Linked DNA regions of Homo sapiens. The protein of the gene in region 1 interacts with the protein of each later gene in a pairwise test. Each region holds a gene or a part of one and is shown on either strand. Other genes may lie near its edges. The genes, in order: PRR20B, TBX3 and SMAP1.

Region 1 (4,119 bases):
ATTCCCATTAAAGCCAGGAGGAAGCCAAGGACACTGCCGTCAAATTACTGATTCCTGGTTTAGCGGTTCCAGTGAGTCATGCACTCTCCTTGCTTCCGTTAACCGCCCCCCCCCCCACCCCAACACCTTTTGTCTGATTCGTCACATGTCCTTTGATCCCCTTTTTCCTCAATCTGTTTGAAATTTTACCTTCTATTCCAATTCATTTAGTGGTTCCCAAAGGGTACCCACGTTGAGACTTAAAAATGTGTCAGTCTAGATTTTTATTGCTCTTATATTCAGCCAGTCTATCGTCTCCAGGCACTAGAGAAGCACTTTAGTAACTTCTAGCTCCTTCTGAGTTTTCGCATGTCCCACATGTCTATATGAGTGTCTTCTGGAATTTTAATTCTAGGTCATCAATCCTTTTTCCAGAATCGTACTTCTCTGGACTTAAGAATACAGTTTCCTAATTTCCATGCTTAGTGATCCTTGTTGCATCCCACTTCTTCCAGGTTGTCTGGGTTGGCTTCTTCTTGGCTGAAAAACGTGACGTGTACTTTCACTGTACATGACAGTTCCATTCCAATCGCCTTGTACAGAAAGGGTGTTTGGCAGCTTGCATGTTGTAAGTTGCGTACTCCAAGTTCAGGGGAAGCTCAGGCTTCAGGTCCAGTCGGGGGAGGAGTGGAGCAGAAGTGGGGCTGGGGGGAACGTCCAGGTGGAAGGAAGGGAGGCTGGGAACAACGTGGGTGGCAGATAGTGGTCAATACGCAATGTCGGTGAGGAACACTGGGACCCCTTGCACGTAGGTGCCCTGGGGGGTTTGAATGACTTGTAAAACCGCTGAGTCACCCAGAGCCCTAAACCCGATGCAGGGATAGAGGGTCAAGACGGGTTGCCAGTCAACAGCCTGAGGCCCAGGAGCAGCGGGCGGCTCCTGAAACCCCAGCTCAGGTTGCGCCACGTCGGGGCCAGGGCCTTCCTGCACAGTTCCAGGCGGAGGACCTGTTTCAGAAAGGGAGAAGGCTGCGGTCTCCGTGATTTCCGGTTCCCCCTGGTGGCCTGGCTCTCCATGGTGGTCCAGTTGGATGTGCACGTCCGGTGCCATCAAGCCTTCTGCCCCCTGTCTCTGGCCAGCGTCCCCGCGGGGCCCAGCCCTTCTGCCACGGCCTCGCCCTGGCCGCCGGCTTCCTCCCCGGCGCCGGCCTCTCTCTGCAGGAGGGGGTGACTCTGGGCGAGCTGGGGGCTGCCGTCTGAAGGGTTTCACGTAAGCGATGGGTTTTGCGGGTTGGGCTGGCTGTGCGGGCCCATCTGCTTCCACGGAGCCTTCAGGGTCCGCAACACAGCAGCCTGGCTCTGGAGGAGGCCCACCTGAGGCTAAAAGAGAAGCGGAGCGTGAGCAGAGAGAGACAGAAGGAACTTCACCCGTCAAGCAGTTATAGGATACTTTTACAAATAAATACTCAGAGAAAAGAGGGATTTCTGAAGTTAAAATTGTGAGAGAAGAAACAAAACTCTCCACGGAAGTTGGAGAATGAAGTTGAGAAGGTCTCCCACAGAACAAAGCAAAAACCTAAAATGATGGAAAGAAGGATGAAATATAAGAGAATTAGAGGTATGCTGTGGCTGAGACATTTCACCAGAAAATTTCAGAGTGCTGAGGAAAAAGAGAAGATTCTAACAGATTCTAGAGAGCGGGAGACAGAGAAAGGAAAAGTCACATGGAAAGGGCTAGGATTCCACATGTCTCAAAAGTCAGACATCTCAAAAGCAGCAGTTCAGTCTAGAACATAACAGAAAATGTCTTCGAAATTTCAAGGGAAATGAATTTCCCACCTAAAATTTCCTGTCCAACCGAAGTTTCGCTGAAGAATCTGGGAGGGGAGAATGAAGATGTTTCAGACAAGCAAGATGTTAAAGAATTTCCTTTCAGTGGATGCTTTATTGTTATGCATCTGTCAAACTAGACAAGATTAAAAGATTTAGGACACTCAGCGTATGAAGGGAAATGTTTTGGAGAACAACGTGGCAACAGCCGGAAAATTCCAACTCCTCCGGGAAAGAACAAGGTGGAAGTACCGGTTTATCATAGATCAAGACGTAGCGTGAGGACTCGCTCTGCTACGGAGAAACAGTAATACAAAACTAAACAGAAGGAAACAGCGACAACAACAGCAAATCTCAGATTTGGGAAATGGGATTACGGTTCGGAAGAGGGAAAGGAATTTCCCAGATGATGTGGAACCCGGGAGCTGACTTCCAACAAGCAGCCCAGGTTGAGGCAGGCTAGGAGAAGGTGAAACAGAGAATGCTTGATTGAGTTTGAGTGTCAACCATTGGGGAAGAATTGGGGAACAGACGAAATTAAAAAGAGAGGAGTGGCAGGCGTTTGATGTACCTTGATTAGGGGCCATGGAGCGAAGTCGCTTCGAAGGCCTTGGTTCCTCCATGAGCAATCGGCGGGAGGGGCTGGGGAGAAAAACAAGAGAGCAAGAACGGATTTAGGAAGACAGAGGTGACAAGGCAGGGGGATGGCCGTGGCCTTTCTAGGGGAATGAGGATTCTGTCCCCAACTGCACCCACCCGAGATCCGTCCACGCCTCCGGGACCCCCAGACACACACCTGATCTTCCCACAGCTGGCTCCGGAGATCTGAAAATTAGGAGACTCTTCGACGAAGAGAGGCCCGAGGAGTCGGAGGTGTCCACAGGTTCACCGCTGTAGCTCTGAGGTAGTCCACCCGCAGCCAGGGAGTCTGGAGGGAGCACGCAGCAGGTTCTGGCTCCGAGCCCAGCAGAAAGCCGACTGCTGGAGGCCGAGCGCCGTCCCTCTTATATGGCAGCAAGGCAGTCGCGTAAGGGACAGGCGTCGTCAGAGGGGGGCCGGCTGGGGCGGGCCTGGCTGGGCTTGCGAGGCGCATTGGGCCAGTCCCCTGCCAGTCAAATGGGGGCCCTTCTGAGATGCCGCCATTTCTAGACGTCCGTGGTTGATTGATTAATCTAATCATCGAGGAAAAAAAATTGCATAATGACCTCTGAGTGTCAGCACAATGAGGTGTGGTGCCCTGAAAGCGGCTGACAGGAAGATGCGATTAGCTTAGATCTGAGCATGGTCAAGGAAAGCATCCAAAGCGGGGATATCTGGGCTGAAATCTGGAACATAACGTTTGAAATTAGTCATCCTGAACCGGGTTGGGAGAGGCAGGGAGGGAGGAAGGGGAGTGAAGAGAGTGTGCTGAGGCCCGGACTGGAAGGGAGCCCGGCACATTCTGGGAATGGACGGGAGGCCAAGTCCAGGCCCGGAGGTGGTGCGAGGTGGAGGCAGGGTCCGCGCAGGAGCTGGTCTTGTTCCAAGGCAGCGGAAAACCGTGGAACGGTGTCCGGCAGCGGGTTAACATTTCAGAAACGACCAGCCTGGCTGTGAAGGAGCGCCAACCCAGGGTCCGCAGAATAAGTCAGGAGAGGCAAGAAGGCTATTGCAGCCCTCGGGGTTGGGCGCAGGGTGCTGTTAGACTGAGACTCAGGGAGGTAGAGGAGGAGAAAGTTCCCTGGTGGGAGAGAAATTTCCAAGAGAAAGCGAGACCCAGTGTGGACAGCCCTTGAGGAAGAGACTGCGGCCTTGGTAGCCCGCCGGTTCATTCAGGCAGAGGTGGACCGAGAACCTGCTCTGAACGGGAAGTTGCGGAGCTTGGCTTGCGCACATCTGGTTGAAGGGGCTTTTGAACTGCCAAGTGAGGATGTCAAGTGGCCTTTTGTAAAAAGAGTCGAGCTCAGCGCGATGGCGACGGGGCTGGAGATGCGTGTGAGACCCACACCGCTGGCTTTTATTGCTGTGGGTGCACTCACGGGTGGAGGAAGACAGCGGGAAACACAGCAGGACGCTGGAGGGGATCCCACAGTGGGTTATTTGGTTGGTTTGCATCCTTGTGTCTTTTACAGAGACGGGTTCTCGCTCTGTAGCCCAGGCTGGAGTGCAGCGGTGCCATCTCGGCTCGCTGCGGCTACTTGGGGTGGGGCGGGGGGGGGGGGGGGGCTGAGATAGGAGAATCAGTTCAAGTGATTCTCCTGTCTCGGCCTCCGGAGTAGCTGGACTACAGGTGAGCGCCACCACATCGGGATAATTTTCGGATTTTTTTGG
Region 2 (3,651 bases), on another chromosome or scaffold:
AAAAGGGATTTTTCTAAACTATCTAATAAATAATTGTTTCAACTCACCTTTTTTCTCTTCGGCCATTTCCAGTGTCCCGGAAACCTTTTGCAAAAGGGTTGTTGTCTATTTTTAACTGGGTTATCTATTGGAAGAGACACAAGCAAGACAGAGACATTGTTCTCATTTTCTAGAATGTTTTGAGGGTGTTTTTCCCAACTCAACAAGTCTAGAGATGTGACTGCCAACAGAAGTCATATAGATATGCCAGGGAAAGGAGATAATAAGGAAACTGTGGCAGGGCTTGTATCTCCTATATGAGGCCAAACCAGGGATTTGGGGATGAAATTATTCAAAGAAATTCTTTTCTTTGGGCAGCCAACAGTTTGGGTTTAGACATGGAAGTGTTGTCAAAGTCATCAAGAGGGAAAACCTGTAGATCTTAAAATTATGCTTTCATTTTGATTTTTATACAGTGCAATTAATCATAAATTATAGCATACTCCCTTCACACACACACACACACACACACACACACACACACACTCCTTTTCCATGAATCCAATAAATGATTTATGGGGTTTCACTACCCTTGTGCGGGAGTGAGTGCGGGAGTGAGTTTAATTTTTTTTTTCTTTGCCTGGGGGGTGGTTTGAGGAAATTACAATATTGACAGTTACAGTACTGAATGACCACTGGAAACATCTGTTTTCATTTATATGCTCTGCCATGGCCATTAGGTGGAGAAGGCCCATGGCCTTTTTGTCTGATCAAAAATGCTACATTTTATTATTACATTAACAACTTCATTTCACAGGATTCTGGGTCTAGAGGGCACATGCATTTTGCACTTTGAGAAAAATGCTATAGTGTGTAATCTTTCAAATCCCTTCCCCTTGGTGGGAAGAAGAAGTTATATACACAGAGTTACTCAGAGGTGGAAAGGGGGACCCTTGGTTGGATTCATGTTCTTGGAATAAATTGCTCTATTGAAGACTTCAGGTTTCACAGGGAGAGAAGATCATGTTTTGGTATTCACACTAAAGAAATTTAGCTGGAACATCCCCATCATGAAGTCCACAGAGGACCCAAGGACAGTGACAATGACAGTGAGTTCAAAATGAAGTGTGTTGTCAGGTAAAATGGACTCTCTTTGAAGTCCAGGATTGCAGAGCAGGGGTCTTCAGTCCCTCCTCCCACCCCATAACTGCTAACAGCCAATCTGGGAACTGGTGAATCAGCAGTAAGGGTCACTTTTTCTGTGCCCATGACCTTCAGGCCACCATAGCTCTAGATATCAGGTGCTTTCCCTTTTGGGGATCCTTCTAACCTCCAGATTCAGGCCTGGGGGAGGGGGGGAATTCAAATGAAGTGGTGACTTTGGCCACCCCAACTCAAAAGCCTCAGACAACTCGATTAATATGACCCTGTGATCAGGGTAGGTTTTTCCAACCACACGCATGCATGCACACACATGCACACACACACACACATCATAACACAGCAGCATAAAAGGTAATAAAAACCAGACCAGCTACTCAGGATTTCTGGCTAGGGGAGAAAAGCTGGTCTCTACTAGGATTCTCCTCCCAGGATCCCAAATGGCTTTTGCCTTAAATTTTTAGCTGGTTCCTTTTGAATGTGACTTCTTGATCCTTCTTCCCCAAGGGGAAGAAGATGAACCTTAAAACAGACAGGACAAAGCCCAAGAGGGGGGGAGGAGTGGGTGGCATCAATGACAGCAGTTCTAGGAGTTTCTCTGTGGCAAAATTAGTATGGCGTTTTTTTGCTCAGCATTGTTCCTACCTAGTCAAGGTGTTTTTCTGTCTCCTCGAGGTGTCATTGTCCTTTCCCCCCAAATGCTCCACAAATCACAAAAGACAACTCAAGACTCTCGTCTCCACTCTCTTGTAACTTTCTCATCCTGACTTAAAGCAGCTTTTAAGGGGAAGGCAAAATATCACCATTAAAAAGGAAAGCCCCTTGAGTTTACCTTATCATTCTGGTATGCAGTCACAGCGATGAATTCAGTTTCGGGGAACAAGTATGTCCGAAATGTACTATAAGGGAGTTTCAAGATGTCATTGGCTCTTACAATGTGGAACCGGGGCTGGTATTTGTGCATGGAGTTCAATATAGTCTGCAGGGGCAGGGAAGAGGAGACATACATAAAACAAGGATTTAGCAGAACAAACGGGATCTTAGGACCCCTGCCAGGCTGAAATCTTCCCCACCGCAGGGTACCACGCTTGTACCGAGCCCACCTCCTTGGAGTACCCCCTGGGTACGTTTCGCTCCACAGATGTTATCTTCTGGAGAATCCAAATTGCTCCTCAGTTGCCAAAGGGCCCCCCCCACCCTCACCATCTAAGGATCATTCATACCTTGAACCCTAGCCTACCTGAGTACCAAAACTATAATTCCCCTGCCACGTAGCGTGATCACTTGGGAAGGCCAAAGTCTTAAAAGATAGAGAAAAACATGCATTTTAATTTACAAAATGATTCAGTACTTTAAGCGCCCACTAATTGACGAGCCCAATCCACTTAAAGCCCTGAAAGGCTGAACTCTAGAGAGGAATATTTATGCCTTAATCAAATCAAGGGCTTCAAATGCAATTCCTGCCCGCTGAAGATATTTCCGCGCCATTCGCGTCTTCCTGGGCCTAATCTTTCTGCTTACTCCTTGCTTATCACGCTGTTTATTTTATTGAAATGTTGGGGAGGGGTAGGAAAAGGCGCAAAAGGTCCTTTGCCTGATATCTACAAGCAATGAAAGTTTTCTAAGTTTCTAAGCACTGTCACTGAATCCATATATACACTCCCAACACACAAACCATTTTTTTCTGAAGATCTAAGCCTCATTTAGGGTAAGCCGGACTCCCACCTAAGCCCAATTCTTTTTTTAGTAAAAGAACGAGTTTTTAAAAATGTATTCACACCATTTAACCAACAGAGTCAAGGCTCCGAAACGTAAACTCTCCTGAGAAAATAATATCACTGGTTTCAAAACAGAAGTATGATATTTTAAAACAAAACAAATCCTTTAGGAATACATAGCCTTGAAATTGATTTTAGCTCTTAAAAAATGGTTTTTAACTTCACTCTCAGGTCAGGAATCTACCAAAGAGCTGGAATTGCTATAGAACACAAGCCGGTAAGTTTTCTTGCCCCATTTCTTTTAGAACGCCAGGCCTTCCATTATTTGGAGAGAAACACCCCGAATCCTTTTTCCAGACGAGGACAAGTTTGCTATGCTTAGGGAGAAGCAAAGGAGAAGTCTGGGCTGAAACTCATGAAATGGGAAGCACTGCCTTTGACTGAGTGAAGGAGGAGAAAATTTTACTGAAGAGAGCAATGAAACTTACAAATCCATGTTTGTCTGAAATGTTGTTGGTGAGTTTCAGTTTGTGGAAAGTGACGACTTTGGACATCCACTGTTCCCCAGTAGCGGGGCTGTCCGGGTGAATGTACATCCTCTTTGGCATTTCGGGGTCGGCCTTACCAGCCACCATCCACCGAGAATTGTGAAATTTATAACGACAGTCATCAGCAGCTATAATGTCCATCAATAAAATGTATTTGGCTTTTTTATCCAGCCCAGAACATCTCACTTTAAATGGAGGAAACATTCGCCTATAAAACGAAAGAATAGAAAAGAAAAAGAAAGATA
Region 3 (3,651 bases), on another chromosome or scaffold:
TATCTGTTTAACCTTTCTTAGTTTGAGACTTACTTGCTAAAAATAATTAAACCCTCCAGCTATTGCTCTGTAACTATTTACCTTAATGTGTAAGCTTCAAAACAGATAGATAACGTTGTAAATTGTTGTGTTAGAAATGATGAGACAGAGTGGAAAGTAACTGGGGGAGGCAGCTCTATCTAGAGTTGTCACAGATGTCCCAGATGTATGTTTGCCAGTTTATAGATGTAATTTCTCAAATTTAAAAGCAGGATATTTGAGGATAAGTTGCATGTGCATAATCTTCCTCCTGTGTAATTAAGGAATTTGGGGGGGCATTATTTTTAATTTTACTATATTGTACTTACTAGCTTTAATGTTGTTGTGTAGAGCAGTGTCACCTTTAGATAAACAGCATGTACTTAAAACAGAAGGCTATGTTTAAAAAAAGCTTTATTTTTAATTTTTAATTTTTTGATACAGAGTCTCTCTCTGTCACCCAGGCTGGAGTACAGTGGCGGGATCTCGACTCACTGCAATCTCTGCCTCTGAGGTTCAAGTGATTCTCTTGCCTCAGCCTCCTGAGGAGCTGGTATTACAGGCACCTGCCACCATGCCTGGCTAATTTTTGTATTTTTAGTAGAGACCGGATTTCACCAGGTTGGCCAGGCTGTTCTCAAACTCCTGACCTCAAGTGATCCGCCTGCCTTGGCCTCCCAAAGTGCTGGGATTACAGGCATGAGCCACTGTGTCCAGCTACTTGATTTTTATTGATATCTCTTACTATATACATACATTTTTCATAATCAACTAATTTATAGAAGTCTGTTAGTAATATGATTCTGAATATTTGGCATATTTTCCAGATATTGCTTTTATTTTTCCATTTTTACTTTATTAATTTTACAAGCAATATGTGAAAAAATCTGAAGCAATTTTTAAAATTATTATGAAAGAATATATTCAAAGGTATGAAGACTTGTACAGCTAAGACTTGTATTCTTGTATTCATATGTGAGTTTTTTGGCAGTGTTTTTCAGAACTTTTTGACCATGAACTGAAGAACTAACATTTTGTAGCACACCTCAGTTCATATATGCGTATTATATGTTACTGAAACAAAAGTTTATATTCTTGCCATACAGCTTAGCAATTGAGTGCTACTATTGCTCTCCAAGCCCACAGTGAACTTTTCCCTGATCACATCCTCTTTCCTTACCACCAGTTACCTGCCTCAGTTTCACGAAATTTGTAGATACATTTAATTAATATGCAGTATGCTATTATTTTACATATTTTTCAATTTATGTAAATGGTTTCACACTGTATATATTCATCTGTGACCTTTTTTAATGTCAGTGTTATATTTGAGATTTAGCCATGTTGATGCAACGCTTTTTGAAGCAGTCCTTGTTTCCCCTTCTTGCCAACAATTAGTAGTTAAAAATTTTTTTTTCCAGAATGTTGGGTGCAAAATGGAAGTAACTGTAGAGTTAAAGAGCACTTTCACTAATTACCAGTGAGACTGTGCATATTTTCATGCTTATTGGCCATAAATTTCTTCTGTGAATTATTCATTCATATCTTTTTGCTTATTTCGCATTGGGCTGGTTGTCTTTTTCTTATTAATTTCTACATTTAATTTTTGAAATGTCTTTGATTTTTTATTTGTTGTTAATCTTGTGCATATCTTATGCATTTAATAAAGAAATTATTTTTACAGTAGGGTATTATTACTATTCCTGATTCAAATATGCTAAGTGAAGAAGCTGTTTATATAAATTAGTTTTAAAATCTTAGAGTGGAGGGGAAGTTTCTAGGAAAGCAAAATGAGTAAAATCAATAAGGTTCTTAAAGATTGCCAAGACACATGTCTTCTTAGCAGACTGCCGCCAGTACCATTTGAAAATTTGAGCATGTGACTTCTGTAAGCTTCCATTATAATTATATAAAACCGAGAATGCTTCTAATATGCTGTTATGTTTATTTTTGTTTTTAACATTTGCTTTTTTTTGTGGTTTCTTCTTCTAAATTAGGTCCTCGATGGGCTTCCTGGAATATTGGTGTGTTTATTTGCATCAGATGTGCTGGAATTCATAGAAATCTTGGGGTTCATATATCCAGGGTCAAATCAGTCAACCTAGACCAATGGACAGCAGAACAGATACAGGTAAACATGACGTTACCAAGAAATTATTTAAAATATTTAAAATGATTTAAAAATATTTAACCCTTCTTGCATCTAAGGATTAACATTGAAAAGTAGTTTTGTATGTTGAAATGGCATATGCCACGTATAAAATTGGAATATTTGAATTTTCAGTTCACAGATGTTTATTTCATTTTGTGTCTATAGTAAAGTCAGTTTTTAATCTATACTTTCTAAAATGTTGATTTTAAAGTGTTTTTAAAGTATCATTTCTCTTGTTGATAAAATTTGCCAGTATAATTCCATAGTTTGTTTTATTTTTTTTTCAGTGGAGGGAGCCTGGGTAAAGATAAAATAAAAAACCACCTGTAGCCTAAAAATGGACTTGAGTAATTTCCTTTCTGTTCTGAGGTGTTCTTAGTTTTCAGACAAGGCCCAGAAGTTGTAAGACAACCCAGTGAACAAATGTTCTTATGACCAACCTAAACTTACTTATGAGTGGTTTAACTCTGCTAGAGGTAGATTTGTAGTTTTAAAAGTTTGCCATTTTCCCAATGTGACAGTCTTAAATTCTCAAAATCTTACTTTTTATCTTTAAGGTTGGCCACTATTGTAAAAATGAGTACTTCTACTGGTCTTATTATGTAATTCACAGTGAAGTTACACCACTTATTTATGCCCTTTTGAAATTACTTTTAAGTCACTATGAAGTGCTAAATACATAAATATATGTGGTTGAGACTCAGTGATACATCTCAGAATCTTAACCCAATAGTTTACATGAATGGGGTGAAGTAAAGGTAGAAAAACAGAATGGAGATCTTCAGGCTATAAAGTCAAGCATAATTTATTTGGTTCCATCTTAAATTAGTTTTTGAGCTTTTCGCTGGCTAGAGCATAAAGGGAAATGCAATCTTTTATGTACTTTCAAGATCCTTGAGGAGAAAACATACTAGTTATATCAAAGAAGCAGAGCTTTTTAAACACTTCCTGTAAGGCAGTGTTCTTAGTATCTCTGTAGAATATGGTAACAGATGTCATGATGTTGTAAGTCTTTTTTTGTTTGTTTGAGACAGGGTCTTGCTATGTTGCCCAGGCTGGTCTCAAACTCTTGGACTCAAGCGATTCTCCCATGTCAGCCTTCCAAGTAGCTGTGACTATAGGCATGCACCACCATGCCCAGCTGATGTTGTAACTCTTTTTCAAGAAACGTGTGAGGTGTAGCTTGACAGTATAACTTGGTGTTTGTAATGGGTTATGGAGGTACAAAGCATTCACGACCGAAGTATCCTGCTTTTTTAATGGCTTATTTCAAACTAAGGATAAAACACGAGATCCTTCAACAGTTCAGTTATTCAGAAATATTTTTCTCAATTAGGTTGTTGAGAGGAAATGAATAGCAAATTATTTGAGATGGGCAGCTGTATAGCTTAGAGTAGAATTTTGTAATCAGAGGGCTGCAGTTCACTGGTTTTCTTTGGCATAGGTTACAAGTACATGGCAATATATTGGATTTTTTTTTT

What was found.
Region 2: the proteins of PRR20B (region 1) and TBX3 interact in a two-hybrid assay, tested with the Homo sapiens proteins (one large-scale study listed by BioGRID).
Region 3: the proteins of PRR20B (region 1) and SMAP1 interact in a two-hybrid assay, tested with the Homo sapiens proteins (one large-scale study listed by BioGRID).

Annotation. Positions count from the first base shown.
Region 1 is NC_000013.11:57,146,188-57,150,306, reverse strand, and holds the start of PRR20B (proline-rich protein 20B), read right to left. Parts: upstream 2,820-4,119; 5' UTR 2,606-2,819; intron 2,452-2,605; 5' UTR 2,433-2,451; coding exon 2,381-2,432; intron 1,360-2,380; coding exon 746-1,359; 3' UTR 1-745.
Region 2 is NC_000012.12:114,677,533-114,681,183, forward strand, and holds part of TBX3 (T-box transcription factor TBX3), read right to left. Parts: intron 3,615-3,651; coding exon 3,347-3,614; intron 2,441-3,346; coding exon of another isoform or gene 2,381-2,440; intron 2,120-2,380; coding exon 1,973-2,119; intron 125-1,972; coding exon 48-124; intron 1-47.
Region 3 is NC_000006.12:70,730,363-70,734,013, forward strand, and holds part of SMAP1 (stromal membrane-associated protein 1), read left to right. Parts: intron 1-2,015; coding exon 2,016-2,149; intron 2,150-3,651. UniProt on the Homo sapiens protein: GTPase activating protein that acts on ARF6. Plays a role in clathrin-dependent endocytosis. May play a role in erythropoiesis.